Homo sapiens: one gene and its partners. The protein of the gene in region 1 purifies or fractionates together with the protein of each later gene. This does not show direct contact. Each region holds a gene or a part of one and is shown in the gene's direction. Other genes may lie near its edges. The genes, in order: NADK2, KCTD9, CLIC4, FBLIM1, ACP6, EVPL and FAIM.

Evidence for each region.
Region 2: the proteins of NADK2 (region 1) and KCTD9 fractionate together in Homo sapiens (co-fractionation; one large-scale study listed by BioGRID). This does not show direct contact.
Region 3: the proteins of NADK2 (region 1) and CLIC4 fractionate together in Homo sapiens (co-fractionation; one large-scale study listed by BioGRID). This does not show direct contact.
Region 4: the proteins of NADK2 (region 1) and FBLIM1 fractionate together in Homo sapiens (co-fractionation; one large-scale study listed by BioGRID). This does not show direct contact.
Region 5: the proteins of NADK2 (region 1) and ACP6 fractionate together in Homo sapiens (co-fractionation; one large-scale study listed by BioGRID). This does not show direct contact.
Region 6: the proteins of NADK2 (region 1) and EVPL fractionate together in Homo sapiens (co-fractionation; one large-scale study listed by BioGRID). This does not show direct contact.
Region 7: the proteins of NADK2 (region 1) and FAIM fractionate together in Homo sapiens (co-fractionation; one large-scale study listed by BioGRID). This does not show direct contact.

The regions. Positions count from the first base shown.
Region 1 is NC_000005.10:36,192,089-36,194,507, reverse strand, and holds the end of NADK2 (NAD kinase 2, mitochondrial), read left to right. Parts: 3' UTR 1-1,808; coding exon of another isoform or gene 1,809-1,887; 3' UTR 1,888-1,919; downstream 1,920-2,419. UniProt on the Homo sapiens protein: Mitochondrial NAD(+) kinase that phosphorylates NAD(+) to yield NADP(+). Can use both ATP or inorganic polyphosphate as the phosphoryl donor.
Region 2 is NC_000008.11:25,448,434-25,451,933, reverse strand, and holds part of KCTD9 (BTB/POZ domain-containing protein KCTD9), read left to right. Parts: intron 1-1,452; exon of another isoform or gene 1,453-1,554; intron 1,555-2,263; exon of another isoform or gene 2,264-2,411; intron 2,412-3,500. UniProt on the Homo sapiens protein: Substrate-specific adapter of a BCR (BTB-CUL3-RBX1) E3 ubiquitin-protein ligase complex, which mediates the ubiquitination of target proteins, leading to their degradation by the proteasome.
Region 3 is NC_000001.11:24,751,947-24,755,446, forward strand, and holds part of CLIC4 (chloride intracellular channel protein 4), read left to right. Parts: intron 1-3,500. UniProt on the Homo sapiens protein: In the soluble state, catalyzes glutaredoxin-like thiol disulfide exchange reactions with reduced glutathione as electron donor. Can insert into membranes and form voltage-dependent multi-ion conductive channels.
Region 4 is NC_000001.11:15,761,795-15,765,294, forward strand, and holds part of FBLIM1 (filamin-binding LIM protein 1), read left to right. Parts: intron 1-2,698; exon of another isoform or gene 2,699-2,701; 5' UTR 2,702-2,891; intron 2,892-3,169; 5' UTR 3,170-3,189; coding exon 3,190-3,439; intron 3,440-3,500. UniProt on the Homo sapiens protein: Serves as an anchoring site for cell-ECM adhesion proteins and filamin-containing actin filaments. Is implicated in cell shape modulation (spreading) and motility.
Region 5 is NC_000001.11:147,660,525-147,664,024, reverse strand, and holds part of ACP6 (lysophosphatidic acid phosphatase type 6), read left to right. Parts: intron 1-3,500. UniProt on the Homo sapiens protein: Hydrolyzes lysophosphatidic acid (LPA) containing a medium length fatty acid chain to the corresponding monoacylglycerol.
Region 6 is NC_000017.11:76,006,345-76,010,306, reverse strand, and holds the end of EVPL (envoplakin), read left to right. Parts: coding exon 1-3,204; 3' UTR 3,205-3,462; downstream 3,463-3,962. UniProt on the Homo sapiens protein: Component of the cornified envelope of keratinocytes. May link the cornified envelope to desmosomes and intermediate filaments.
Region 7 is NC_000003.12:138,611,771-138,615,270, forward strand, and holds part of FAIM (fas apoptotic inhibitory molecule 1), read left to right. Parts: intron 1-3,500. UniProt on the Homo sapiens protein: Plays a role as an inducible effector molecule that mediates Fas resistance produced by surface Ig engagement in B cells.

The DNA.
Region 1 (2,419 bases):
GCAGTTCTGGGTGAAATACAGATAGCAAAACAAATCATGATGCTGTTACAAATGTATTAGTTATCCAATAAGTGTTTTAAGTCAATTTTTTTAAAATGATATGAGTCTTACAGGTTTCTTCCATCTTTAAAATGCTCAAACATGGATTCAGGGACTAAAAGGATGAACTGATTAGACATTTTCTATTAGGAGTTTGGTAAAATATTGTAAAAATATCTTCACCTGTGTTAGGAGTATTATCAGAAAGAATGGATTCTTTAATAAATATGTAAAACACAGTAGTTTTGGAATTGCCTTCCTTAGTATTGTGGTTTTCACCTAGCTTATATTCCAAGATTTACAGAATAGCTTTTAGGATAAGATGTTAGGACTTTTTTTTTTTCCCCATGAGAATTCCTTTATTTTTGGAGGAAATTATTATCTAATTATTGATCTACTTATAAGTAATCCTAGAATTTTTGCCAAAAGATCCTGTCGTTGCATAATCAAACAGTTGGTATTCTCGTGCCGTTGTTCAAAGTCATGTGTTTCTTTCATTTGGTGCTGAAAATTTCTGTTCAATCATTGACAAATATTTATTGAACACCCACTCTGTGCCATGTAAAACTATGTCAGGTGCTGGATATGTTGATGAATGAAACAGACTCTATCCTTATACAATTTGAGTCTTGTGGGCTCAGAAGTAAATTCTGTGAAAGCTGGACGGATAGTCGAATTGAGTGCTCTTAGTTTTGCCAATATTTAACATGTTGTTCTTATCAATTTTTTAAAATAAATGTTAATGTACAAAGTTAATCTAGGTTTTGATGTATATCCAGAGAATCAATTTTTCTTAAAGTATCTGCGTAGACATTCATAGCAAAGAATTTATGACATATCAGATAGAAATACATTAAAATGTAGTGTTTTCCCAGAGATTGATCTGGCTTTTTTTTTTTGATATACATAAGATACCACTTTATAAAGAAGCTCCATACTATAGAACCTCCCCTAACAGGCTTAAAATACCTTCTTTTTTTTTTTTTTTTTTTTTGAGAACGGAGTCTTGCTTTGTCACCCAGGCTGGACTGCAGTGGCATGATCTCGGCTCTGCAACCTCCATCTCCCAGGTTCAAGCGATTCTCCTGCCTCAGCCTCCCAAGTAGCTGGGATTACAGGCAGGCACCACTATGCCTGGCTAATTTTTTGTATTTTTAGTAGATATGGGGATTCACCATGTTGGTCAGGCTGGTCTCGAACTCCTGACCTTGTGATCTGCCTGCCTCGGCCTCCCAGTATTGGGATTACAGGCATGAGCCACCATGCCCGGCCTTAAAATGCCTTCTTAAAGGAAAAATGCCAACTCCATCCTTAATCTCAAGGAAATCTGATTGTCCAAATAGATCTGTTAATATGTAACATATTAATAGGTAACTTGCTGTGTAAAATTATAAGCCATATTTTAAAAGGTTTTAAAAATACTTATTGTGCTCCATTTGTGATATAATTTCTAACATTTCTGCTCTGTGATGGGGGTTTATTTGTAAGAATAAGAGGCAAAGGAATGTTAGCATAGCAAAAATGTGTTTGAATGAGTTAACCTTTTAATCGCAACCCTATGTGAATAAAATTACTCCACTGTTACCTCTTCTTTTTAACATTTCTTATTTCCCTCTCAAGGGGTCATTATTTGAAAACTAGTTTTCACAAAATGTTATGTTTCAGAAGTGTTTCCCCACTGCTGTGTATTATTATTCTGTGCCCTGTTGACTTCATTCACTGTTAACATTTGACATAGAATGATTAGTTATTAAATCAGGGTGAAGTGCTTACCTGGTCAGTGTAGGCTCTTCAGATAATTTTGACTTAATATTTTTGATACTCCTTGTGCATTTACATTCATGGCCCCTGTACATTAAATCATATTACATGTTTTACTACATTGATTTCACTTTTTAATAAGCAGAAAGAGAGCCAGGTAACACATTTTTATTGTAAAATATCCACTTGAGTTGAAAAAGTTGTCAAATACAAGTTTAAGGATACGTTATATATTTTGCTTAGTTGTGAAAATAATGTACATTTAGAATTTAAATCACTTAAATTCATTCCATTGTACCAATATTATTTATGCATCCTTATACTTAAGAATAGCATCTACTAAGACAATTATGCAGAAAAGATCCCAGGGATAATGCAACACCTAAATATAATGGTGGGGGAGATAAGAGTAAATGTACTAATGAGTTGTCTAACTAAAGAATAGTTCAATTTTATTTTTTCAAAGGCATTTTATTCTTGACTTTAACATTAAAAGTACTCAAGGGATTGGGGCATAAGTCAGTGAGAAGGCTTATTAAGTTTTCTACATTAAGGTATGAAGAGTTTTTAAGTCTTACGGGCTTTAAGACTTTTTTTAAAGAAAATCACTGACTACATG
Region 2 (3,500 bases), on another chromosome or scaffold:
ATGGTAAATTGTTTTTGATACTTTATTAGGATTGATTAAAGTGGCAATAAAAGTTGAATTCAAATACACAAATACTTGTGTATTTATTGTGTATTATGTAATAAATCTTGTGGGTATAAAAGAAAAAAATATTTTACATGCATGTGCAGGTTTTAATTTTTAAATTTAAATAATACAGGTTACAATTTGAAAATGGTGTTTAAAGGTAAATTAAAACTAGCCAATCGTACTAGGCATGGTGTTCCATTTACTCTCCAACTCATAGGCAGCTTTCACTTGTCATGGGATCTGAAATTTAAAAATAATTGACTCTGAAAAGTAGTATAATACAGACATCATGAACTTTAATAGACATGCTTCTCAATAAATGTAAAATGCTTCTATTCTTAGGGCCTAAGTTGTTAAGGTAGATAATCCCAGTGACATGGAAACATCAGGCCACATGGTGGAGATAACACATACAAAGTAAATGACCTTTGTAAGCACTATCATTTTATGATTTATTTGGCTCAGTATGAGGACAAAAACAATCTTAGTATATACTAACTGGAGCTTATGTCCATGATATACAAGATTTTTATTGCTCCTCTTTCTCAAAAGAGTTATATAAAGAAGAATGCATGTGCCAGTCTGTTTGCAACTTTCTCCGTAACTTAATCATCTTTTCCATATGTATGACAAATTTATGTTGATATATATATTTTAAAACCTGGTTTCTAATTAGTTTAAAATACAGAGTTTTTGCATATTTGAATATTAGTATTGCAACATAACTCCTTTTTATTTGTATGGTATTGTTAGTATGTGCGAATGATTAGTTGGAAAACAAACGTCAAGAATAGCCCTCCAAGTGAAAACAAGTATATTGGCCCAACTTAAGGGAAATTTTCAAATTTCTAGAACTATAAGATTCTTCGTATTAATTTTAATTCTGTTTTCTCTAATTGACCACCCTTTGGTTATTTCACTTAAAGGAAATTGTTAACTGCCTGATTGCAAACTGCTAAAATAATTTTATTTATAGAACTAGTATCTGGAGCTATGGAGACCTTAAAATAAATTAAAACTTCCCCCCTTATTACAAAAGTAATATAGGTTCATTGTAACAAATTTGGAAAACAAACAAAATAAAGCAAAAAACTTAGCAGGGTGTGGTGGCTCATGCCTGTAATCCCAGCACTTGGGAGGCTGAGGCGGTTGGATCACGAGGTCAAGAGATTGACACCCTCCTGGCCAACATGGTGAAACCCCGTCTCTACTAAAAATACAAAAATTAGCTGGGCGTGGTGGCACGGTTTTACCATGTTGGCCAGGCTGGTCTTGAACTCCTGACCTCAGGTGATCCACCCACCTTGGCCTCCCAAAAAGTGCCGGCATTACAGGCTTGAGCCACCATGCCCAGACTGCTTTAGAATTGCATTTATACTGTGTATTTTTTTACCCTAATGACAGTGTAAGAGACTTAAATGAATATGACTGTCACACAAAAAAGGTGTGTCCTACTTCAACACTCAACATTCAAGAAATATTTGTCAAAGACCTGCTGTAAGCCAGGTAATGTACCATTTGAACCTATGGCGGTTATTAGTAGAACAGCTCAGGAATGTACTTCTTTAGTGCTGCTTATCAGCTTTACCAAGGGATAATTGGTCACCTCTATTCACAGAATTCATAACAACTTTTTGCAAATTAATTTTTTTTATTGGACCTTTAGGATCCAGGCAGACAGCCAGATTAGAAAATATTTAGTGATACGGTAAATTGTTTTTGATACCTTATTAGGATTGATTTAAGTGGCAATAAAAGTTGAATTCAATTTATACCTAGACTGTGCTCCTTAGTAGTTTTACAGCCTACAAGGAAATACCTGTTGTACTTTGATTGCCTTGAAAATAGTCCTTGCCAAGCAGTATGTGTGGTTTTTTTCTATCATCTGGTCACATTTGACTTCAGTGGGGAAGAAACAGAAGATGGCAACATCCCAACCCTCTAAATAAAACAACAAACAGGTCTTGAGTTGTATTTCATCAGTTTGTTACTTTGGGTTCCTATGTCATGGGAAAGCCTAATAGAATTAAAATAGTTGTGTTTTTTTTTCTTCATTTTTTTTTTTCTGCTCTTTAAAATGGCACTGTCTAATAGAACTACTGAGATGATGGAAATTTGTGCTATTCAATATGGTAACAATTAGCCAGTGTGGCAGTTGAGCACTTGAAATGTGGCTAGTGTGACTGAACTGCATTTTAACTTTTAATTTTAATAGATTAAAATTTAAATAGACTCATGAAGCTAGTGGCTTCCACACTGGACAGCACAGCTTTAAAACATGGCAGGTGGCCTTTATTTTCATCGGAAGACAATAGACCCACAGAAAAACCAAGTCAATCATATGGAAGTAGACGACAATTCAAGTTAGTGTATTTTGAATAAGTCATATAAGATCTTAAGCTATAATATTACATTAAGTATTAAGCATAATACAGGCAGGTGCATTCAACTTGCATCTATTTTTTGGTATGGCCAAGAGAGAACAGTGAAAGAGATGCTGAGAGAGAAAGTTGATGTTAGGGCAAGGAGGGGATATCAGGCAAAAGAAAGCCATACTGAGATGTAAGAGCCAGAGGTAAATAAGAGGGAAAAGAAAGATTTAGAAAATTCTTTGTATGATGGCAACTATGCCAAGAACATTGAATTGGGAAAGAGGTGCTTGTGCTTCTTACCCTCTTTTCACAGCACCTTCTGACTGCAGGAGTTGTTTTGCATCTGCTTTGGTCAATCTCTTGCTCCTTTGCATGTTTGCTTCTCTCTTCTCTGTCTTTACTCTCTTCATGCTCTTTGCCTTAACACAACCCCAGCTTTGCCGTGTGCAATGCCCTAGGTACTGTATTTCGCTTCGCTTTGTCCCAGGAATGTGTATAATGCAATTACAGAATACCTCACTGTGTTGCAGAGGTGAACAATCATAGGAAATATGGGGGACATGTTTTAGTCAGGCTTTTTTTTCTTTTTTTTTTTCTTGGAGAAGGAGTCTCACTTTGTCGCCCAGGCTGGAGTGTGGTGGTGTGATCTCAGCTAACTGCAACCTCTGCCTCCCGGGTTGAAGCAATTCTCCTGCCTCAGCCTCCCAAGTAGCTGGGACTACAGGCACACGCCACCACGCCCGGCTAATTTTTTGTATTTTAGTAGAGATGGGGTTTCACTGTGTTGCCCAAGCTGGTCTCGAACTCCTGAGCTTAAGCAATCCATCCGCCTCAGCCTCCCATAGTGCAGATTTTACAGGCGTGAGCCACCGCGCCCAGCCCTACTCAGGCTTTAATTATTTATGGCAAGCCTGCTGTGTGTAGGACACTGTGCCAAGTGCTTTGCAGTATTTTTTTTATTGTGATAAAAGATGGAACAAAATTTATTATTTTAACCATTTTTTAAATGTGTAATTCATTGACATTGTTTACATTCACAATGTGTGTAACCATCACCACGGTTTATTTCCAGTACTTGGT
Region 3 (3,500 bases), on another chromosome or scaffold:
CCACTGTGAACTGGGATGATCACTGTCAGCAAGTAGTCACCAAGCTGCTGGGATTGGGGTGGTGTTTGTAAAAAGTTAATCTGGTGCAGGGTGGCATAACACATAAGAGTCTGTTTCTTTTGAGATATTTGGCAGAGGTTCCTAATGTGCTTGGACTCTGGAGCCACACTGCTTGACTTGAATCTGGCTTCTAGTATGTCAGGCAAGTTTTTAAGCTCTCAGTGCTTCAGTTTCCTAACTTCTAATATCAGGATAATAATAATAGCAATTTTATATGGTTACTGAGGGGATTAAAACTGTTAATCTGTGCATATTAGTTAGGGTAGTTTAAGTTGCTGTAATAAGTTATCCCCCCACAAACAGTGGTTCAAATATGATGGAAGTTTATTTCTCACCCCTCAGTCCAGGAGAATGTCTTAGATGTTAGGGTGGCTTTCCTCCTCAGAGTCATTAAGGGACCCGGGCTCTTTCTAGCTTATTTGTCCACTAACTCCCAGAGCATTGTCCTCTTCTGAATTGTCAAAGTTGGTGGGTGACAAGTACTGTCTGTTGCCAGTGGGGGGTGGAAAATATGGAGGAAGCACATCTTAAGGGCCCCAGCTCAGAAGTTCTACCTGTTACTTCCGGTCACATTCTATTGGAGAGAACTTAATCACATAGCTTCATCTGCAAGAGAGGCTGGCAAGTGTGGTCTAACCGTATACCATCCTATGTAAAGCTTTAGGAAGAGTGCTTGACACATAGTAAACACCTGCTTTTGTCATCGATAATAGTTTATTATTATTATTTTTTTTTGAGACGGAGTCTCGCTCTGTCGCCAGACTGGAATGCAGTGGTGCAATCTTGGCTCACTGCAACCTCTGCTTCCCGGGTTCAAGCGATTCTTCTGCCTCAGCCTCTGGAGTAGCTGGGACTACAGGCGCGTGCCACCATGCTCAGCTAATTTTTGTATTTTTAGTAGAGATGGGGTTTCACCGTGTTGGTCAGGATGGTCTCGATCTCCTGACCCCATGATCTGCCCGCCTTGGCCTCCCGAAGTGCTGGGATTACAGGCGTGAGCCACCGCGCCCAGCCTAATAGTATATTATTTTTAAATGTGGGCTCTATTAGTAGGATCAGGGAGTTCTGTAAATCCTTGAAATTACAGTAAAAAATTCTAATGTGAGGCTTTTTTTCTGGAAATTCCTAAACCAAGGCTAAGAACCACTGTTCTAAAAGAAGTAAATAGTGGAATTCTTAGAGTCAAGAATACTTTATATAAGCAAGGTATAAAAGAAGGGCTTGGGCTAGATGATCACAAAGGTCTCTTCTAGTTATTATTAACTATGACTTAAAGAATGTACCGGCATGAACTAAGTGCTAATACTGAGTTAAGTACTATGGAAGATATAAGAAATTATTAAACAGTTAATTTCTTTAGGTTTACAAATTTTATTGGAAAGAAAACAATACAAGATGGTCCATGCTTAAAGAGTCAAGTGGGGCTCACATTAAGTAGGGCTAGGAGACATGGGGAAAGATGGAAGGAGGCTTAAACTTGACCTTGAAAAAGGAGGTGAATAGGTGGGTTCGGAATAGCCAAGAATGGGAATGTGAGTTTTGACATTATGTGGAAACTCCTTATGCAGGAAACAATTGGTAGATTGATACCTAAGAAGGAACCAGGAGTGATTCAGATCTATAGTGCCAGGGAGACAAGTTATTTAAAAGTTGAGGATGAGACTTTTAAAACCTAACTTGGGTTTTTGTTAATGTATACATTTTCCTAACTTTTTTCATTCTCCCCACACTTTCCTGTGTTTTTGGATTGCTGTCTGTTTAATAACTTTTCAGTGGCACTTGGGAAGGTGCAAATGGATTGTACAGATGGACTGTTTTGACAGTTTAAAGTGGGAATTCTTTATATTGTTTCAAGGACAGGCTTCAAACTTCCCCCCGTCTTTGTTTTTTCTAACAGAAAAAAATGAAATAAATTTTCTATAGGAAATGATGCTGAAAACTGTTCTGGTAATTAACAAAAGCTAACTCAATATTCAGACAATATTACCTTGAATCTAATTGATTTGCCATTCATTTGAGGTTTCCGGGGGGAAAATTCAGGAGACAGAAATGAATGTAAAGTATGAAGTTAATGAAAACCTATTATTTTAACTTTTTGCCTGAGCTGTTCCTGAAGACCTAATAATGCTACTTTTGGCAAAGGCCAAATTTGATGATTTTGGTTTAATGTAAAAACCTGTGAGAAAGGAGCCTAGAATGGGGAAGAGGCAGGAGGCTTTGAGCCTAGGAGACTGAGCACACGAAAAGCTTAACAGAGTATGAATAATGATAGGAAAGAGGCAATTGGGAGAAGAACCTGGCTGTCAGGAAATGTCACAGTTGGTTTGGGAAGATGCCTGCAGAGGTGCCTAGAAGCCAGTAAGTAAGGATGGTGAGCCATCCTTTTCCGCTTCCTGTTTCGTTAGAGCTGTGGAGCCTCCGTGTTCTGATGTCCCCTGAGTAGGGAATTGTGAGTCCATAAAAGGAAAATGTGTTAGGCAGGATGGGAAGTGTGATTAAGGCATGAGTTAAGATTTTGGTCAAGTAGAGGAGTAAGCTAGGATGGGTTTGCCTGTTTTAGACGCTTGCATAGAGAATGGAAAGGGACTTTCTGAAGGAAAATGACATTAGGTCATGGTTACCTATTGTCCAAGGATGATTTAAGACATGTAAATGTAATTTAGGGCATCAGCTAGTGAATTTTCTCATGGCTTTTAATTATATTGTCTATTTCGAGACTTGCCTCTTATCTCTCAGTGGTCAGTTCCAGATATTGGTATAAGAAATAAGAAATAACAATGATAGGCCCACTGCCATGGCTCACACCTGTAATCCCAGCACTTTGGGAGACCGAGGTGGGTGGATCGCCTGAGGTCAGGAGTTCAAGGCCAGCCTGGCCAACATGGTGAATCCCTGTCTCTACTAAAAATACAAAAATTAGCTGGGCGTGGTGGTGGGCGCCTGTAATCCCAGCTACTCGGGAGGCTGAGGCAGGAGAATTGCTTTAACCTGGGAGGCGGAGGTTGCAGTGAGCTGAGATTGTGTTACTACACTCCAGCCTGGACGACAGAGTAAGACTCCGTCTCAAAAAAAAAAAAAAAATTATAGGCTGGGCAAAATAGTGAGTCCTCATCTCTATAAAAACTAAATTTTTGTATTTTTAGTAGAGATGGGGTTTCACCATGTTGGTCAGGCTTGTCTTGAACTCCTGACCTCATGATCTGCCCGCCTCGGCCTCCCAAAGTACTGGGATTACAGGCGTGAGCTACCACTCCTGGCCCCATCTCTACTAAAAATACAAAAATTAGCTAGGCATGATGGTGCACGCCTGTAATCCCAGCTACTCAGGAGGCTGAGGCAGGAGAATCTCTTGAACCCGGGAGGCGGAGGTTGCAGTGAGCTAAGATCACACCACTGCACTCCAGCCTGGGCGACAGTGAGACTCTGTCTCAAAAAAAAAA
Region 4 (3,500 bases), on another chromosome or scaffold:
TTTTATTATCATCCATCAGTCGCTGTGAACCCAAAGTGGCCAGTGCACTTTGAGATAAGGAGGGAAGCCTGAAGAGCGAGATAGAAAAGGGGACATTTTTAGCCCTGGGCACAGGCATTGGGTGCCTGCTGAGGACTGATGTGCTCACTGGACTCCCAGCTTTCCCACCCATGGCCCCACCTCAGCCTTGGCCACAGGGACTACTGTCAGCAGGAACTACCTGAGAGATGGGAAATAATGTCCTTTTCCTGACATCAGGGTATCAGGGTGCCACCATGCTCTCTGATTTATGCTTTTCTTTTTTTTTTTTTCGAGACAGAGTTTCACTCTGTCACCTCGGCTGGAGTGCAGTGGCACAATCTCAGCTCACTGCAACCTCGCCTCCCAGGATTCAAGCGATTCTCCTGCCTCAGCCTCCTAAGTAGCTGGGGACTACAGGTGCATGCCACCATTTCTGGCTAATTTGTTTTTTTTTTTTTTTTTTTTTGAGACAGACTCTTGCTCTGTTGCCCAGGCTGGAGTGTGGTGGTGCAATCTCGGCTTACTGCAACCTCCGCCTCCCGGGTTCAAGCAATTCTCTGTCTCAGCCTCCCGAGTAGCTGAGATAACAGGCGTCTGCCACCATGCCCAGCTAATTTTTGTATTTTTAGTAGAGACAGGGTTTCACCATCTTGGCCAGGCTGGTCTTGAACTCCTTACCTCGTGATCCAACCACCTTGCCCTCCAAAAATGCTAAGATTACAGGCATAAGCCTCCACGCCAGGCCAAATTTTTGTATTTTTAGTAGAGACAGTGTTTCACCATGTTGGCCAGGATGGTCTTGAACTCCTGACCTCAAGTGATCGCCTACCTCCCAAAGTGCTGTGATTACAGGCGTGAGCCATCGGGTGGCCAGATCTGGGTTTTGATGCCTGCGCTCTGATATCCTCTAGGCACACAAAGAATGCAGACACCGGTCAGACGCATTGATAGTGAGCTTGTGAGCCAGCCTGTCCTGCCCTGGGGCTATCATCGCTTTCGTCCACCCTTGGCAGCAGGAAACTGCCCCTGGAGAGGGCCAGGAATCGGGGGGTGCCTTGTGGAAGAGGTGATGTTTGAGCTGGGCCTCTAAGAGAAAGCTGAAATTCACCCTGTGGGGGCAGGACAGGAAAACCATAGAAGAAACACTGCAAGGCAAGAGAGAGGACATAGGAAGGGCGAGTGGTCCAGGGGCTCAAAGAGGCTGAGGCTGCCGCAGTTGGACTTCATCCTGAGGTGGTGGAGAGCCATACTTTTTTTCTTTTTTTTTTTTTAGACAGAGTTTCGCTCTTGTTGCCCAGGCTAGAGTGCAATGGTGCCATCTCACCTCACTGCAACCTCCACTCCCACGGGTTCAAGTGATTCTCCTGCCTCAGCCTCCCAAGTAGCTGGGATTACAGGCGCCCGCCAGCACACCCAGCTAATTTTTGTATTTTTAGTAGAGATGGGGTTTTACCATGTTGGCCAGGCTGGTCTCGAACTCCAGACCTCAGGTGATCCACCTGCCTCTGCCTCCCAAAGTGCTGGGACAGAGTCTCACCGGGGTGCGATGGCTCACGCCTGTAATCCCAGCACTTTGGGAGGCTGAGGTGGGCGGATCACGAGGTCAGGAGATCAAGACCATCCTGGTTAACATGGTGAAACCCCATCACTACTAAAAATACAAAAACAAAATTAGCCGGGCGTGGTGGCGGGCACCTGTAGTCCCAGCTACTCGGGAGGCTGAGGCAGGAGAATGGCGTGAACCTGGGAAGTGGAGCTTGCAGTGAGCCAAGATCGTGCCACTGCACTCCGGCCTGGGCAACAGAGCAAGATTCCGTCTCAAAAAATAAAAATAAATAAAAAAAGACAGAGTCTCGCTCTGTTGCCCAGACTGGAGGGCAGTGGTGCAATCTTGGCTCACCACAACCTCGGCCTCCCAGGTTCAAGCGATTCTCCTGCCTCACCCTCCCAAGTAGCTGGGATTACAGGTGCCCACCACCACGCATGGCTAATTTTTGTATTTTTAGTAGAGATGGGGTTTCACCATGTTGGCAGGGTGGTCTCAAACTCCTGGCCTCAAGTGATCCACCTGCCTCGGCCTCCCAAAATGCTGGGATTACAGCTGTGAGCCACCATGCCCGGCCCATGGAAGGTTTTTGAGTAAAGGAGAAAGAGATTGATGCTCTAGAAAGATCAGGGTTAGGAGGTGAGACCAGAGGCCATGGAGCCTCCCCATCTCTCCCCTTGCCCCCTGCCCACTGCCCAGGCCTGAACCAGGACCCAGGTTTTGGAGATTGGGTGGAGTGAGAGAGTCTGGCACTAGAAAGCAAGCAAGGAGGGTGCTGGCTCATGTGCAGGGCTGAGAAAGGTCAGAGCAGAGCAAAGTGGCCAAGAGCATGGGCTCTGGGTTCCAGTGCCACCTCACCACCGTGTGACCCTGGACAGGTGACTTCTCTCTGAGTCTCGATTTCTTGATGTGTTAGGTGGGTGATGATAGTGCCTGCCCTGCAGCCACCTTGTGAGTGTTTATGAGTTAATGAGCATAACGTGTGAGTGTTTATGAGTTAATGAGTATAACATGCTCAGGGCAGAGCCGGTCTTGGTGAGGGCAGCTCTCACTGTGCCCTGCCCACTCTGCCGCCGGAGCCTAGCCCTGACGCCCTGGCAGATCCTGATCTGTTCTCTTTCCCTCCCAAAGCAGAGCTGGCCTGAACCTCCAGGACTTCAGCCCTTCTAGGAGAATCTGATCCCAGGTGAGGGAGGTCACTTGGGGTGTGGCCCAGCAGGCAGGCGGGACTCCAGACTGGGAACGGAAGTCAGCCCTGCTGGGGCTGGGAGCTGAAGCATCTGTTCCTTCCTCGCGGGTGTGAGACAAGGAAGAGTGATCATTGGTGAGGGCTGCCCTTTGCTCCCCTAGGTGTGCAGGTTCGGGGGAGGGGCAGTCAGGACTTTTGGGTCTCACCCCTGTGGCCAAGTTCCCTGGTGGGTCCTGTCTTCCCCAGCAGGACACCCCCACCCCTTCTCTGGCTGGGCTGGGTGCTGGACTGAGTTGTTGAGATGGTAGGGTGGCTGGCCTGTCTTTTTGGGAGGAGGGAGGCTCTCTCCTCTCGGGGGAGGGTGGCTGTGTGTCTGGGTGGCAATCCTGTGCTGTACCCCACTCTGTCCCTAGCCACACCAGGAGCTGAAGCCATGGCCTCAAAGCCTGAGAAGAGGGTGGCATCGTCTGTCTTTATCACCCTGGCACCCCCGCGCCGCGATGTGGCCGTGGCGGAGGAAGTGAGGCAGGCAGTTTGTGAGGCCCGGCGTGGCCGCCCCTGGGAGGCTCCTGCCCCCATGAAGACACCCGAGGCTGGCTTGGCGGGGAGGCCCAGCCCCTGGACAACCCCTGGCAGAGCTGCAGCCACAGTGCCGGCTGCACCTATGCAGCTCTTCAATGGAGGTAAGAGCTGAGGGGACTTTGGGGAAGACCACGTCAGAGGCAGAGGTGGGGAGGAAAGGGC
Region 5 (3,500 bases), on another chromosome or scaffold:
AGTTCGGGGAGGGTAGAAGATAAATATGACGATATGTGACATAGTAGGTTTCCAAATGTTAGTTTTAAAACTAAACAAAGTAGTAGGAAATTGAGTTAAATTTTTTTTGTTATCAATGTTATAGGAATTCAGATTTAAAAGATAACCATCAAAAGCCAGAGTGGTCAGTGATAGGGAAGTAAGACTTGAGCTATCCTTGAACATTGAAGACAAGGTGATGGGCAGATAGGAACAGGAGTCCCTCCAAGCAAGAGAAGCAAGCTGGAAGAAGATGCAGAAACAGTGGGCAGGTTCTAGGTTGGAGGGGAGGAAAGAGGCAGTGAAGCTGAGTACAGGGGCTGGACAAAGGGGGTAGAAGTCCTTTTTTAAAATTTTTTTAAGAGATGGGGTCTTGCTGTGTTGCCCAGGCTGATCTTGAACTCCTGGCCTCAAGTGATGCTCCCACCTCAGCCTCCCAAAGTGCTAGGATTACAGGTATGAGCCACTGCACTCAGCCACGATGTAGAAGTTCTTGAAGGACAGATGCTTTCCTCTGAGACATTAGGAAAAAGTTACTGATATGATGACACTGGCTTAGCAAGATTAATTAGGTGATTTTGAAACATACAATGCATTATTATTTATTGTAGTCACCATCCTGTACAATAGATCACTAAAGCTTATTCTTCCTGTGTAACTGAAATTTTGTACCCATTGATAAAAATCTCTCTTTCCCCATTTACTGCACCCCCCCACCTCTGATAACCATCACTCTACTCTCTAATTCTGTGACTTTGACTTCTTTAGATTCTACACAGACAAGCATACCTTGAAGATATTGCAGATTCAGGTCTAGACCACCACAATAAAGCAAATATCGCAATAAAGTGAGACCCACAGTTGTTTTTTGTTTCCCAGTGCATATAAAAGTTGTGTTTACACTCTTCTGTATCCTATCATGCAATAGCATGTCTAAAAATGTACATACCTTAATTTAAAAATGTTTTATTCCTAAAAAGTGCTAGTGATTACCTGAGCCTTCAGTGAGTCATGATCTTTTTGCCAGTGGAGGGTCTTGCCTTGATGTTGATGGCTGCTGACTGATCAGGGTAGTAGTTGCTAAAGGTTGGGGTGGCTGTGGCAATTTCTAAAAATAAGACAACAGTAAAGTTTGCCACATTGATAGACTCTTCCTTTCATGAAAGATTTCTCTGTAGCTTATGACACAGTTTAATAGCATTTTACCCACAATAGAACATCTTTTGAAATTGGAGTCAATCTTCTCAAACTCTGCCACTGCTTTATCAATTAAGTTTATGTAATAAATCCATTGTTGTAATTTCAACAGTGTTCACACTATCTTCACCAGGACTAGATTCCCTCTCAAGGAACCACTTCTTTGTAGTAACTTCTCATGCATTCAAGTTTTATCATGAGATTGCAGCAATTCAGTCAGAACTTAAGGTTCCACATCTAATTCTAGTTCTCTTGCTATTTCCATCACATCTGCAGTTACTTCTTCCACGGAAGCCTGAATCTTCAAAGTCATCCATGAGGGTTGGAGTCAAATCTTCCAAACTTCGCTTAATGTTGCTATTTTGACCTCCTCCTTATAAATGTTCTTAATGACATCTAGAATGGTGAATTCTTTCCATAAGGTTTTCAATTTACTTTGCCCAGATTCATCAGAGGAATCACTATCTAGGGCAACAATAGCCTTACAAAATGTATTTCTTAAATAATAAAGACTTGAAAGTCAAAATTACTCCTTGGGCCATGGGCTGCAGAAAGGACATTGTGTTAGCAGGCACAAAAACAATATTAATTTTGTACATCTCCATTAGCGCCTTTGGGTGACTAGGTGCATTGTCAATGAGCAGTAATATTTGGAAAGGAATCAATTTTTTCTTTTGAGCAGTAGGTCTCAACAGTGGGCTTAAAATATTAAGTAGACCATGCTGTAAACAGATGTCCTGCCATGCAGGCTTTGTTGTTCCATTTATACAGCACAGTCAGAGTACATTTAGCATAATTCTTAAGGGCTGTAGGATTTGCAGAATAGTAAATGAGCCTTGGCTTCACCTTAAGGAAACCAGCTGCATTAATCCCTAATGAGAATCAGCCTGTCCTTTGAAGCTTTGAAGCCAGGCATTGACTTTCTCTCTAGCTATGAAAGTCTTAGCTGGGATCTTCTTCCTATATAGGCTGTTTCTTCTGCATTGAATATCTCCATGTTATCAATAAGGTTGTTTCACTTTCTCATTGTTTGTGTGTTCACCAGAGTAGTACTTTTAATTTCCTCCAAGAACTTTTCCTTTGCATTCATAACTTGGCTGTTTGGTGCAAGAGGCATAGGTTTTGGCTTATCTTAGCTTTCTACATGCCTTCCTTACTAAGCTTAATCATTTCTAGCTTTGGATTTAAAGTGAGAAACTTGAAACTTTTCCTTTCACTTAACACTTAGAGGCCATTGTAGGGTTATTAACTGGACTAATTTTAATATTGTTGTGTCTCAGGAAATAAGGAGGCTCAAGGAGAGGGAGAGAGATGGGGGAAATACCAGTCAGCAGAGCACTCAGAAAACACACAACATTTATTGATTAAGTTTGGCATCTTATATGGGGGCGGTTTGTGGCGCTCCCAAATAGTTAAAATAGTAACATCAAAGATCACAGAGTTCAGGATCAGCCTGGGAAACATGGCAAAACCCTGTCTCTCAAAAAAAAAAAATTAGCTGGGCATGATGGTATATGCCTGTAGTCCCAGCTGCTCGGGAGGCTGAGGTGAGAGGATGAGCCAAGGTAATGCCACTGCACTCCAGGAGGCAGACGTTTCAGTGAGCCAAGATCATGCCACTGTACTCCAGCCTGGGCAACAGAGCCAGACCCCATTTCAAAAAGAAAAACAAATCATAAATCATAGATCACCTTGACAGATTTAATAGTAATGAAAAAGTTTGGAATATTATGAGAATTACCAGATTTTACACAGAGACATGAATGAGCACATGCTGTTGGAAAAATGGCACTGATAGACTTGCTCAATGCAGAGTTCTCCAAACCTTCAATTTGTGAAAAATGCAATCTCTGTAAAGAGCAATAAAATGATGTATGCCTATGTTACTAAAAGGTTAACTTTACATATTTTCATCACGTAAAAATGAAAGTATGTGAGCTGATGGATTTTGTTTACATTAGTTAATCATATATCAAATGTAAATATATATGAAAACATCACATTGTACTCCATAAATATATACAATATACAATTATTTGTCAATTAAAAATAAAACAAAATATTTAAATGCAATAAAAATATTTTTTCCAAAAAGATTAATTAGTTGGCTATGGATAGATGGATTGTGCAGGTGAAAGGGAGGAGTTTGTCACAGGCACTAATAAGGTTTACATTCTACAATAAGATAATGGAAGGACCATTGGGAGGGACTTTTCTTCTAGGCAGTGATCAACAGGGCTTGGTGTGGGGATAGTGGATCCACAGGGAGCCAAAGGTTTGAGGTT
Region 6 (3,962 bases), on another chromosome or scaffold:
CAGCTGGAGGGCAGCCTGTCCAGGGTGAAGGCCCAGGTGGAGGAGGAGGGCAAGCGGCGGGCTGGCCTGCAGGCAGACCTGGAAGTGGCAGCCCAGAAGGTCGTGCAGCTGGAAAGCAAGAGGAAGACCATGCAGCCTCATCTGCTGACCAAGGAGGTCACCCAGGTGGAGAGGGACCCCGGCCTGGACAGCCAGGCGGCCCAGCTCAGGATCCAGATCCAGCAGCTCCGCGGGGAGGATGCCGTCATCTCGGCCCGGCTGGAAGGGCTGAAGAAGGAGCTACTGGCCCTTGAGAAGAGGGAGGTGGACGTGAAGGAGAAGGTCGTGGTGAAAGAGGTAGTCAAGGTGGAGAAGAATCTGGAAATGGTCAAGGCAGCCCAGGCTCTGAGGCTGCAGATGGAGGAGGATGCTGCGCGGAGGAAGCAGGCGGAGGAGGCTGTGGCCAAGCTACAGGCTCGCATCGAAGACCTGGAGCGGGCTATCAGCTCGGTGGAGCCCAAGGTCATCGTGAAGGAGGTGAAGAAGGTGGAGCAGGACCCAGGGCTCCTCCAGGAGTCCTCCAGGCTGAGGAGCCTCCTCGAGGAGGAGAGGACCAAGAACGCGACGCTGGCCAGGGAGCTGAGCGACCTGCACAGCAAGTACAGCGTGGTGGAGAAGCAGAGGCCCAAAGTGCAGCTCCAGGAGCGCGTCCACGAGATCTTCCAGGTGGATCCGGAGACAGAGCAGGAGATCACTCGGCTCAAGGCCAAGCTGCAGGAGATGGCGGGCAAGAGGAGCGGTGTGGAGAAGGAGGTGGAGAAGCTGCTGCCCGACCTGGAGGTCCTGCGGGCCCAGAAGCCCACGGTGGAGTACAAGGAGGTGACCCAGGAGGTGGTGAGGCATGAGAGGAGCCCCGAGGTGCTGCGTGAGATCGACCGCCTGAAGGCTCAGCTCAACGAGCTCGTCAACAGCCACGGGCGCTCCCAGGAGCAGCTCATCCGCCTGCAGGGTGAGCGCGACGAGTGGAGGCGCGAGCGGGCCAAGGTGGAGACCAAGACGGTGAGCAAGGAGGTGGTGCGCCACGAGAAGGACCCGGTGCTGGAGAAAGAAGCAGAGCGGCTCCGCCAGGAGGTGCGGGAGGCGGCCCAGAAGAGGCGGGCCGCGGAGGACGCGGTGTACGAGCTGCAGAGCAAGCGCCTGCTGCTGGAGAGGAGGAAGCCCGAGGAGAAGGTGGTGGTGCAGGAGGTGGTGGTCACCCAGAAGGACCCGAAGCTGCGCGAGGAGCACAGCCGGCTGAGCGGGAGCCTGGATGAGGAGGTGGGCCGGCGGCGCCAGCTAGAGCTTGAGGTGCAGCAGCTGCGGGCCGGCGTGGAGGAGCAGGAGGGCCTGCTCAGCTTCCAGGAGGACCGCAGCAAGAAGCTGGCCGTGGAGAGGGAGCTGCGGCAGCTGACCTTGAGGATCCAGGAGCTCGAGAAGCGGCCTCCCACGGTGCAGGAGAAGATCATCATGGAGGAAGTGGTCAAGCTGGAGAAGGACCCGGACCTGGAGAAGTCCACGGAAGCCCTGCGGTGGGACCTGGACCAGGAGAAGACCCAGGTAACCGAGCTGAATCGGGAGTGCAAGAACCTGCAGGTCCAGATTGACGTCCTCCAGAAAGCCAAATCGCAGGAGAAGACCATCTACAAGGAAGTGATCCGGGTGCAGAAGGACCGCGTCCTGGAAGATGAGCGGGCCCGCGTGTGGGAGATGCTCAACAGGGAGCGCACGGCCCGGCAGGCCCGGGAGGAGGAGGCACGGCGCCTGCGGGAGCGCATTGACCGGGCCGAGACGCTGGGGAGAACCTGGTCCCGGGAGGAGTCCGAGCTGCAGAGGGCCCGGGACCAGGCCGACCAGGAGTGTGGGCGGCTGCAGCAGGAGCTGCGGGCTCTGGAGAGGCAGAAGCAGCAGCAGACACTGCAGCTGCAGGAGGAGTCGAAGCTGCTCAGCCAGAAGACGGAGAGCGAGCGACAGAAGGCGGCCCAGCGGGGCCAGGAGCTCTCGCGGCTGGAGGCGGCCATCCTCCGCGAGAAGGACCAGATCTACGAGAAGGAGCGGACGCTCCGGGACCTCCACGCCAAGGTGAGCCGGGAGGAGCTCAGCCAGGAGACCCAGACGCGAGAGACCAACCTTTCCACCAAGATCTCCATCCTGGAACCCGAGACGGGGAAGGACATGTCCCCATACGAGGCCTACAAGAGGGGCATCATCGACAGGGGCCAGTACTTGCAGCTGCAGGAGCTCGAGTGTGACTGGGAGGAGGTCACCACCTCGGGGCCCTGTGGGGAGGAGTCTGTGCTCCTGGACCGCAAGAGCGGGAAGCAGTACTCCATCGAGGCCGCCCTCCGCTGCCGGCGCATCTCTAAGGAGGAGTACCATCTGTACAAGGACGGCCACCTGCCCATCTCCGAGTTTGCGCTGCTTGTAGCTGGGGAGACCAAGCCAAGCTCCTCACTCTCCATCGGCTCTATCATCTCCAAGTCCCCGCTCGCCTCCCCGGCCCCCCAGAGCACCAGTTTCTTCTCTCCCAGCTTCTCTCTCGGGCTCGGTGATGACAGCTTCCCTATCGCCGGGATCTATGACACAACCACAGACAACAAGTGCAGCATCAAGACGGCCGTGGCCAAGAACATGCTGGACCCCATCACTGGGCAGAAGCTACTGGAGGCCCAGGCGGCCACAGGGGGCATCGTGGACCTGCTCAGCCGTGAGCGCTACTCTGTGCACAAGGCGATGGAGAGGGGCCTGATCGAGAACACCTCCACACAGAGGCTGCTTAACGCCCAGAAGGCCTTCACCGGCATCGAGGACCCCGTCACCAAGAAGAGGCTCTCGGTGGGCGAGGCCGTCCAGAAGGGCTGGATGCCCCGGGAGAGCGTGCTCCCACACCTGCAGGTGCAGCACCTGACCGGGGGGCTCATCGACCCCAAGAGGACAGGCCGCATCCCCATCCAGCAGGCCCTCCTCTCCGGGATGATCAGTGAAGAGCTGGCCCAGCTCCTGCAGGACGAGTCCAGCTACGAGAAGGATTTGACAGACCCCATCTCCAAGGAACGGCTGAGCTACAAGGAGGCCATGGGCCGCTGCCGCAAAGACCCCCTGAGCGGCCTGCTGCTCCTGCCAGCGGCACTGGAGGGGTACCGCTGCTACCGCTCCGCCTCCCCCACCGTCCCGCGCTCCCTTCGCTGACACGGGCCAAGGAGCCAGTGGGGAAGTGCGTGTGTTGGGCCAGGTAGGATACGTACACCTCTTGCCTCAGAGCAGCCTCATCCCAGGCAGTGGGTCTTCCCTCTGTCCAACCACTGTTTTATTATTTTACTAACATGGTGATGGGCTCCCTCCCCTAACCTTGGTGCCTGATCCATCCCCAGACCAGGACAGCAGCCACTCAGTTCTTCCTCCACCTCCACCCAGTGATCCCAATAAACGAATTCTGTCTCCCCGTGCCATGTGGTGTCCCATTCATTCACATTTGAGAGTGCAGGACCCATGTGTCTGGGGGATGAGTGCAAGGACAGCGTTGCTCAAGTCCTTGCCTGGGCGGACGTGCTCAATTTGCCTGCCTGGGAAACAGGCATCCTCGGAGGGCTGTGCCTCCTTGAGTGCGGGGCAGGGATGCAGTGGCAGGTCATGGAAAGAGATTATGGTTTAAAATCACTAAAGGAGGCCGGGCACAGTGGCTCACACCTGTAATACCAGCATTTAGGGGGGCCAAGGCGGGTGGATCCGAGGTCAGGAGTTCGAGACCAGCCTGACGAACACGGTGAAACCCCGACTCTACTAAAAATACAAAAATTAGCTGGGTGTGGTGGTGCACACCTAAAATTCCCGCTACTCAGGAGGCTGAGGCAGGAGAATCACTTGAACCTGGGAGGCGGACGTTCCAGTGAGCAGAGATCATGCCACTGCACTCTACCCTGGGCAACAGGGTAGACCTGAGACAGCGA
Region 7 (3,500 bases), on another chromosome or scaffold:
TTTCTCTCTGGTCACATGCTCTCTACACAGCCAGCTCTCCTTTGCCTTCTGCCATGAGTAGAAGCAACTTGAGGCCCTCACCAAATGCAGATGCCCAATCTTGAGCTTCTCCAGACATCAGAATCATGAGCTAAATAAACCTTTTTTCTTTATAAATTATGCAACCTCGGGTATTCCTTTGTAGCAGCATGAAAGAGACTGAGACTTCTCATTGTTCCCTTCCCCCATTCCCAGGGAACATCTAATCTGCTTTCTGCCTCTACGAATGTCCCTTTTCTGGGTATTTTATATAAGTGGAATCATATTTGTCATTTTTTGTCTGGCTATTTTTTTTTTTTTTTTTTTTTTGAGACGGAGTCTCGCTCTGTCACCCAGGCTGGAGTGCAGTGGTGCGATCTCAGCTCACTGCAAGCTCCGCCTCCCGGGTTCACGCCATTCTCCTGCCTCGGCCTCTTGAGTAGCTGGGACTACAGGCGCCCGCCACCACGCCTGGCTAATTTTTTTGTAGTTTTAGTAGAGACGGGGTTTCACCGTGTTAGCCAGGATGGTCTCGAACTCCTGACCTCGTGATCCGCCCGCCTCGGCCTCCCAAAGTGCTGGGATTACAGGCGTGAGTCACCGCGCCCGGCCTTGTCTGGCTATTTCACTTAGCATAAAGTTTTCATAGTTCATCCATGTTATAGCATATGTCAGAATATCACTCCTTATTTTGGCTGAATGAAAAGGAATATCCTTTGTATATATATGCATTTTATCACTTCTCAGCCTTTTGGCCGAGATCAAGTGTATGTACCGCGTTTTGTTTATTCTTATGTTGATGGACAACTTGGGTTGTTTTCATCTTTTGGCTATTGGAAAATGCTACAATGAACAATAGTATACAGGTGTCTGAGTGGCTGATTTCAAAACTTTTTGAGTGCATTCCTAGCAGCAGAATTGCTAGGTCATATAGTAATTCTCTGTTTAGGTTTTGAGGAACTGTCATATCATTTTGTATGACAACTTCACCATTTTACAGTCCCACTAGCAATGTACAAGGATTCCAGTTTTTCCACATCCTTGCCAACACTGATTATTTTCTGTTTATTTTTAGTATAGCCATCCTAGTAGATGTGAAGTTGTATTTCATTGTTGTTTTGATTTGCATTTCTGTCGTGATTAATGTTGTTTAGCATCTTTTCATGTGCTTATTGACCATTTGTATGTCTTCTTTAGAATAATGTCTGTGGAAGTCCTTTGCCTTTTTTTTTTTTTTTTCCTGGAAACAGGCTTTTGCTCTTGTTGCCCAGGCTGGAGTGCAATGGCATGATCTTGGTTTACTGCAGCCTCCGCCTCCTGGGTTCAAGCGATTCTCCTGCCTCAGCCTCCCGAGTAGCTAGCTGGGATTACAGGTGCCTGCCACCACACTCGGCTAATTTTTTGTATTTTTAGTAGAAATGGGGTTTCACCATGTTGGCCAGGCTGGTCTCGGACTCCTGACCTCAGGTGATCCACCCGCCTCAGCCTCCCAAATTGCTGGGATTACAGGTGTGAGCCACTGCGCCCGGCCCCTTTCCCATTTTTAAATTGGGTTGTCTTTTGTGTTTATGAGCAGTAGAGTTCTTTATATATTCAGAATATGAAACCTCTATCAGATATATGATTTCCAAATATTTTCTCTCATCCTTGTCCTTTCACTTTCTAGATAATGTCCTTTGATGCACAAAAATTTTAGTTTGTTTTTGTTTTTTTGAGACAGGGTCTATTCTGTTGCCAAGGGTGGAGTGCAGTGGTGCAATCACAGCTCACCTGCAGCCTTGACCTCTCAGGCTTAAGTGATCCTCCCACTTCAGCCTCCCATGTAGCTGGGACTACAGGCATGCACCACCATGCCTGGCTAGTTTTTAAATTTTTTTGTAGAGATGGGGTCTCCCTATGTTGCCCAGGCTGGTCTTGAACTCCTGGGCTCAAGCAATCCTCCCACCTTGGCCTCCCAAATTGCTGGGAATGCGGGTGTGAGCCACCACACCCAGTCAGTTTTAACTTTTGATGAAGTTCAATTTATCTATTTTTTTCTTTTGCTGCTATCCTTTTGGTGTCCTATCTAAGAATCCATTGCCAAATCCAAGATCATGAGGATTTACCTCTATGTTTTCTTCTAAGAGTTTTGTGGTTTTAGCTCTTACATTTAGATCATTGAGATAACTTTTGTATATGGTGTGAGATAGGTGAGGTTCAACTTAATTCTCTTGTGTATGAAAATCTAGTTTTCCCCATAACATCTGTTGAAGAGACTATTCTTTCCCCACCAGTTAGAGTTGGCACCCTTGTCAAAAATCATTTGGCCACAGATATGTGGATTTATTTCTGAACTCTCAAATTCTTTAAGGACAGAAACATTTTCTTCAGGCTGGGCATGGTGGCTTATGCCTGTAATCCCAGCACTTTGGGTGGCCGAGGTGGGAGGATCACTTGAGTTCAGGAGTTTGAGACCAGCTGGGGCAACATGGTGAAACCTCATCTTCACAAAAAATTACAAAATTAGCTGGGTGTTGTGGCACATGCCTATGGTCCCAGCTACTAAGGAGGCTGAGGTGGGAGGATTGTTTGAGCCCAGGAGGTCGAGGCTGCAGTGAATTGAGATCGCACCACTGCACTCCAGCCTGGATGACTAGAGTGAGACCCTATCTCAAAAAACAAAAAAAAAGAAGGATTTTCTTCAAATTTCTGACAGCGTCTAGTACAGTATCTCTTGATAGCAGGTTCAAATGTTGAATGGAAAAACTGAAGCCTGGACATTTATCATAAGAAAACTTTTGTTGTGAAGGTACATCTCCCCTTGAGAAAACAAATAGAGCATAGCTGCTGCAAATCATACAAAACCATAGAAAAATTTAAAAGACATGTACGACCAGGTGCGGTGACTCATGCCTGTAATCTCAGCACCTTGGGAGGCCAAGTCAGGTGGATTACTTGAGCCCACAAATTCAAGACCAGCCTAGGTAACATGGTGAAACCTCATATCTACCATAAATACAAAAATGAGCCGGGTGTGGTGGTGTGTACCTGTAGTCCCAGCTACTTTGGAGGCTAAGGTGGGAGGATCCTTTGGGCCCAGGAGGTTGAGGCTGCAGTGAGCATTGAATATACCATTGCACTCCAGCCTGGGCAGCAGAACAAGACCCTGTCTCAAAACAAAAACAAAAACATGTACAGATGCTTCTTGACTTGTGATGGGGTTATATCCCAATAAACCCATTGCAAGTTGAAAATATTATAAGTTGAAAATGGATTTAGTACACCTAACCTATCAAACATCATGTCTTAGCCTTGCCTACCTTAAGTGTCCTCAGAATACTTACCTTAGCCCACATTTGGGCAAAATCATCTAACACAAAGCCTATGTTACAATGAAGTCTTGGCTGTCTCCTGTAATTTTTTGTACTGTAGTGAAAGTGAATGGTTGTATGGGTACTCAAAGTATGGTTCCTACCAAACACGTATCTCTTTTGCACCATCTT